Linked DNA regions of Homo sapiens. The protein of the gene in region 1 interacts with the protein of each later gene in a pairwise test. Each region holds a gene or a part of one and is shown on either strand. Other genes may lie near its edges.

Region 1 (3,500 bases):
TTTGGAGCCACATAATCTCTGTCACAACTCAACTCTGTCATTGTAGCATGAAAGCAGTCATAGACAGTATGTAAATGAACGAGTGTAGCTGTGTTCCAATGAAACTTTGTTAACAAAACAGGTCCATAGTTTGCCATTGCCTGGTCTAGGCCTTTTAGATGCACCTTTTTAAAAAAAACCTTTATGGCCAAGTATGTTTAGGAAACAATACCTACCCCACTGACCTAGAATTTTGTGTAACTCTGTTTAACCCGGATTTTCCTAAATGTATTTGACAACCGTGTGCTTTTTTTAAAATGGGACATATACCCTGCAGGATAAATTATGGGAAATCTTGTGGGTTGCAAGTTTGTCAATTTCCACAAATGTTTGGCAAATTTTAGGTCTTATTTGAAAATGTTTGGCAGGCTTGGTGCCATCTCCATTCCCCAAATGGGAAGAGGGCTTGACTTGAGGCTCCAGAGGGTCAGTCTCAGACTCCCCTTTCTGAAAAAATAGAGACTCCTATATGGAGAGTTTGATGGTTATGGTTTGATGGTTTGAAAAGCTCCAGTAAAGCCTACTGCTGGATTTGCCTTGTTAGTTTCTTTCTTTCTTTCTTTCTTTCTTTTTTTAAGGAAATCATTTCGTTCATGCTAGTATTTTACATCTTTGGGATGCAGCAAACAGTATGGAGCAAAGTAGAGGGATGTTACAAGCACATTTTAGGAACTCCAGAACAAATATTCATGAGGCCTTTCCTCAGTTTGGAAGCCTTGACTTGCAGCCTATTTTTAAGCAGTTTTCTGAACTGAGACCCTCCTCTAATGTTATACTGTATAAGGCTCTCACTGATAAATTAATGCAAAATAGGCTTTTCTGCCCCCCTTCCACATCTGAGCCACAAGAGGAGTTTCCCTATTGCAGGGAGGTTAATAACCAGTAGCTCCTCCTTTGCAAATACCAAGAAATTTAAATTTTAGTTTGTTATTCTCCAGTTTATAACAGTCTCTTAATATGGCCCTACTGACTTTTCACTCATGAGGGTAGAACTGGATCCCTTGATGGTAAATTATTGAGAGCCTCTATTTTTTTTCAATGTTCAATACAATGAAGACAGTTGTGCTGGAGAATAGCTATTAAGAGGAAAAGGTTAAAATGAGTAATATTTACGTTTTAAAATAACAATGGTCTTGAAATAACATTTACTTACTTGCACTTAAATACGGAGACTACTACTACCAACACACATGGAAGAGAATAATTGGTATCCTTCACTATTCCTTGAAGAGCCCTAGATTTAGTGCCCATTTACTAGCCAGAAGTCAAGGGTTCAAACCTCTATGAACTTGTTTGCTCCCCTGCAAAACTGAAGTTTTAAAAATGTGCCTGTCCAGTGTCTGAGAATTGTCATGGAACTTCGTGATAATGTCACTAAGTCATTTTATAATCTGTTAAATTTCTTAAAAGTCAAACACGGCCGGGTGCGGCGGCTCACGCCAGTAATCCCAGCACTTTGGGAGGCCGAGGCGGGTGGATCACAAGGTCAGGGGATCGAGAACATCCTGGCTAACACGGTGAAACCCCGTCTCTACTAAAAATACAAAAAATTAGCTGGGCGTGGTGGTGGGCACCTGTAGTCCCAGCTACTCGGGAGGCTGAGGCAGGAGAATGGTGTGAACCCAGGAGGTGGAGCTTGCAGTGAGCCGAGATCGCTCCACTGCACTCCAGCCTGGGTGACAGACCGAGATGCCGTCTCAAAAAAAAAAATAATAAAAGTTTAACACATGACTGCTACTTCTTTGGGGGCATTAAATATTCTTAATACCATCAGAAATAAAGATAGACTCAAAAATCATCTTCATACCTGGAAATCTTAGTCTAGGGATGTTTTCTTGGGAATATTTTTACCAATTAAAAAAAAATTTGAACTCTTGCATGGGCAATTTAAAGGTCTGCAAATTGTGAATAAAGGAATAATAGTTGCGAATAATAACCTGAGAATTATGCAGATACGTGTGTGTTTTTTAGTAGCTTTTTGCTATCTAAAATTATGCTGTTAGTGAATATGATTGTGGTTTGTTCAATTCATACTAAATAGTATATGCCTTTCAGAGTCTGTGGAGATCTTTAAAAGTGCCAACTAAGGGCTGGGTGTGGTTGTTCACACTTGTAATCCCAACACTTTGGGGGGCCAAGGCGAGAGGATCACCTGAGGCCAGGAGTTCAAGACCAGTCTGGGCAACATAACCAGACTCCATCTCTACAAAATAAAAAAAGTAGCCAGGCATGGTGGCACAGCATGTAGTCCAAACTACTCAGGAGGCTGAGGTGGGAGGATTGCTTGAGCCCAGGAGTTCAAGGTTACAGTGAGCCATGATCCTGCCACTGTACTCCAGCCTGGGGTGACAGAGTGAGTCCCTATTAAAAAATAATAATAATAAATAAATAAATAAATAAATAAATAATAAAAACAGTGCTAACTAAAATACAAGCTACCACACACACTGTATCAGCCGATTTTTAAACAGAGTGTGGATGCCACGGGGCAGCTTTGCAGAATGGAATAAAATGGAGTGTAAAAAAGAGCTTGGAGACATGTTATGTGCTAAGAGGAGTGACTCTCTCCATGTTTCCTACAACGTGAATAGAAATAAAGTGTGAACTTCCATCTGACTACTTATTGGTGGGTTGATGAAGAAGCAGATTCATTTCTCTTCTTAGATTTTTTTTCCAAGTGAAGAATGATCTTTTTGGCATACTTCTCATCAAGCTCACCCCAAAACAAGAAACTAACTTAGGTAAATAGATTTAGTTTGCTCAGTCTTTTCCATTTTTGCCACAGAATCTTCCAATACATACATACACACACACAGCCTTTCTTTCAAACAATTGTTATCCTCAAGTAGTTCTGTTCTTCTTCTTTTCAAAATTTATAAGCACCTCGTTATAAGTAAAATGAGAAATGCATTGTAATGAAATGCAATGTAATGTTCAAAATAATTAGCATGCAAAATGCTGAAGAAAAATAGCAATCTGACAAGAAAATGCTACCAATGTATTGAGTTTGCTAAAAAGAGAATGAAAAATATCCTTTATTCTTCAGATTTTCTTATTTCAAAATATGGCCCTGTAAAAGAAAATAGATATCATCATTTAGGCTTGATACAATTAAGGTTATTTAAGATGAACAACAAAAACAACAACAACAAAAATAATTGAAGTTATTTGACGGAAAGGGTAAAATGGCTGAGTCCTATGGCAGCCTTTCCCTAGAAAGACAGTCTTCCATCTCTTCGAAAAGAGAAAAGGGAAGCTACATCTCTGTTTCCGTTAAGCCAGACACAGTCATGGTTAGAATCTCTATGAATTGGTGGACAATGTCATCTCTTTGCTTCTAACCATAGCTAAAGATAGTCAGCTTCTCAAAGACAGTCCCAAGTTGTCAATAAAATCTGGAGCCCATGGCCCTCTCATGGGTTTCCATCAGGACATGTAGTAGGGTCACCACTCACAGTTGG
Region 2 (3,731 bases), on another chromosome or scaffold:
TGTTTATGACGGACATTGCATAAAAGGAAATTTTCAGGGGAATGGTGACTGACTCTAGAAACCATCATATGAAGATGAGGTGAAGGAATTTAGAATAGTGAGGCTGGAGAGAAGAATTACTAGAGATATCTTTAAAAATCCAATGAAAGTAGCTCTGATTTTGGAAAATCAGAATATTCTCTGTAGTTTCATAAAGTGGAACTGGGATAAATGGGTAGAAGTTTGGGGGAAGTAGATTTCAGTTTTGAGAAGCAAAACATCTCTGTCTAAACAATGGGATGGGATGTTTCACGAAGAAATGTGATTCCTGCCATTTGTCAGCCAGGGATCTGACAAGGGTGTTTGTGAGGTCATTTCTGCATTGATTGGAGATAGCACTAGATGACCTCTTAAATTTCTGTTTTAATCTCAAACTTCTGTTAATCCACTGGGAGCCCTCTCAATGGATTTTAGGTGTGATGCTATTTATGCTCCCAGGTAAAGCTCTTGGTGTTTCTCATTATTGCTTTATTTAAAAAATTTGGACTAGTATTTATTACGTTTTCTGTTTCTTTCTTCCTTTTTAAAATGACATACATAGCATGTATATAAAGTGTATGAACCATGTTAGGGCAATATATGTTTGTTACACATATATGAATAATTATAAAATAAATATTCATGTAACCATCACCCAAGTTTGGAAATAGATTTTCAGCATCTTAAAAGCTCTGCATATGCAGATTATAACTCCCTGTTTTCTGAGGGAGAAGTTTTTGGTTTCATGGTGGTATTACAATGCAGACTGTCCATTATGGTAATTATCAGCTGGCTTCAGATTTGATTTTCCTTCTCTCTATAAATGCTGTCATTCCCTCCCATCTTAGTGTTTTTCCTGTGTGTCCTGCCACACAGATTGGTCCTATCGAAGCAGTGAGCTAAACGACCTAAACTTTATGGTTACTTAAGGTGTGATGGTAACACAGTATATCTGTTTATGGAAAATTAAAAGAATAAACAGATTACTTTTTTCATCTACATTTCAAAACAAGTGTTTGATCACCAAAAATATGCTGACATAAGGGATTACTATTGTCTTTCCATTGTTTTTAAAAGAAGACTAAGAACAGTTATAATTATGTAAAATGAGGGCCACAGACATGCCCCTTTTCTTACAAAAAAGAATTTTTTAAAAATCTCACAGTAAAAGAGGTGGTTTATATTAGGGTCTTTCTTTAGACTTGAATTGTAGAGTCATAGGTCAGACCACTTTCTAGGAGCTGTTCAGTGATAAAATTAATAACAGTGACTTTTGAGTCAAAATAGATTTTTAAAGTACTTGATTTTCTCTTTGATTTGGAAACATCTTTGTTTAGCTTAATTGAAATGATCTAAAATATTTGAAGGATTTTATACTTTACACAGAGGCATGTATTTGGATAATTAGCTTTTATTAAACCCAGGCTTGGCTTTTAAGGTACAATATACAAATTGTTTTTGAGATGTTTAGTTTTTTCCTCTCTCAAAAGTTTAATAGCTGGGCACATTAGCTCACGCCTGTAATCCCAGCACTTTGGGAGCCCGAGGCAGGCGGATCACAAGGGCAGGAGACTGAGACCATCCTGGCCAACATGGTGAAACCCCATCTCTACTAAAAATACAAAAGTTAGCTGGGTGTGGTGGCGGGCGCCTGTAGTCCCAGCTACTCGGGAGGCTGAGGCAGGAGAATCGCTTGAACCTGGGAGGCGGAGCTTGCAGTGAGCCGAGATCGCACCACTGCACTCCAGCCTGGGCAACAGAGTGAGACTGTCTCAAAAAAAAAAAAAAAAAAAAAAATTTACTGGGTATCTGTTTCACTTTGTAGGTCATCAGAAGATTGAGAGAAAGAGGAGAACCAATCAGACTATTTGGAGAGACTGATTATGATGCTTTTCAACGTTTAAGGAAAATAGAGATCCTCACACCAGAAGTTAACAAGGTAAGAGGACAGAACAAAGCTAGAAAAATACCACTGTACTGCATTCACTAGAATAGAGTTTGACTAATTGCATTATTGTAGGCAACAATGGAAAAGTAAAGTGAGCAGATTATTGCTGCTGAATGGAAGTTTTCATTAATTTTTTGAAAAGCTCATATCTTAAGTATAACATTTAATGCATTTTGACAAATACATACAAGCATATAACCATTGCCCTTATAAAGAAATAGAACATTTTCGTCACCAAAGAAATTTCCCTGAGAGCATCAGGAAGAATAGCGAATGGATGCTGGGCTCAATAGCTGGGTGATGGGATGATCTGTGAAGTAAACCACCACGACACACGTTTCCCTATGTAACAAACCTGTCATCCTGCAGCTGTATCCCTGAACTTAAAAGTTGAAAAAAAAGAGAAAAAGGAAATTTCCCCAGTACCCCTTCTCAGCCTATCCTCATATTTCTCCTCATCCCTTCCTGGGCAGCCACCATTTGAATTTTGTCATCATGGATTAATTTTGCTTGTTCTTGTATTTCATACAGATGGACTCATAGATTGTGTGTCTGGCTTCTTTCGCTCAGCATATCAGTTTTTAGGTTCATCCATGTTATTGCAGATACCACTGGTTTCCTTTTCATTTTCCAGTGATACTCAGTTGTATGAATATATCAAAATTTGTTTCCAGCTTTGGGCTATTAGGAATAAAACTGCTGGCTGGGCGTGGTGGCACAAGCCTGTAATCCCAGCACTTTGGGAGGCTGAGGCAGGTGGATCACAAGGTGAAGAGATCGAGACCATCCTGGCCAACATGGTGAAACCCCGTCTCTACTAAAAATACAAAAATTAGCTGGGCGTAGTGGCGTGTGCCTGTATTCCCAGCTACTTGGGAGGCTGAGGCAAGAGAATCACTTGAATCCGGGAGGTGGAGGTTGCAGTGAGCTGAGATTGTGCCACTGCACTCCAGCCTGGCGACAGAGTGAGACTCCTTCTCAAAAAAAAAAAAAAAAAAAAAAAAACAGGGATAAAACTGCTATGACCATTCTTATGCAGATCTTTTTTTGGAACTATGTTATTTTTCTTGGGTAAATAAATAGGTCTCTTGGGGAGATACCTAGAAGTAGAATTGCTGGATAATAAGAGTAGATGTATGCTTAACTTCATAAGAAATGCCAGTCATTTCCAAACCCCAGCATGTGGTATTGTTAGTCTTTTTAATTTTAACCATTCTCTTTTGTGTCTGGTAGTAGCTCTTTGCGGCTTTAATCACATTACCTGATGACTAAAGATGAGGAGCATCTTTTCATAAAGTTGTGTTCATTTGTGTAGTGTCTGTTAAAGTCTTTCTTTCCTTATTTATTTATTTTTTTGACACAGAGTCTCACTCCGTCACCTACGCTGGAATGCGGTGGCATAATCATGGCTCATGGCAGCTGCAACCTCCTGGGCTTAAGCAGTCCTCCCACCTCAGCCTCTCAAGTAGCTGGGATTACAGGCGCTTTTTGTTCATTTTAAAAATAAACTTGTCTTTTTGTAAATGGATTATAGGAATTCTTTGTATATTCTGGATAGAAGTTCTTTGTCAGATATACGAATATTTTTTGTGACTATTTTCTTGTAGTTTAGGGCTTACCTGTTCTCTTAATTGAATCTTTTGCTGAACAGAAGTTTGTGTGTGTGTACACACACGCTTTTTGAGACAGGGTCTCACTCTCACCCAGGCTGGAGTTCAGCATGATCATGGCTAACTGCAACCTCTAGCTCCTGGGCTTAAGCGAT

The links. The genes of interacting proteins can lie anywhere in the genome.
Region 2: the proteins of CADPS (region 1) and PRPF18 interact in a two-hybrid assay, tested with the Homo sapiens proteins (one large-scale study listed by BioGRID).

What each region holds. Positions count from the first base shown.
Region 1 is NC_000003.12:62,487,417-62,490,916, reverse strand, and holds part of CADPS (calcium-dependent secretion activator 1), read left to right. Parts: intron 1-3,500.
Region 2 is NC_000010.11:13,603,788-13,607,518, forward strand, and holds part of PRPF18 (pre-mRNA-splicing factor 18), read left to right. Parts: intron 1-1,843; coding exon 1,844-1,957; intron 1,958-3,731.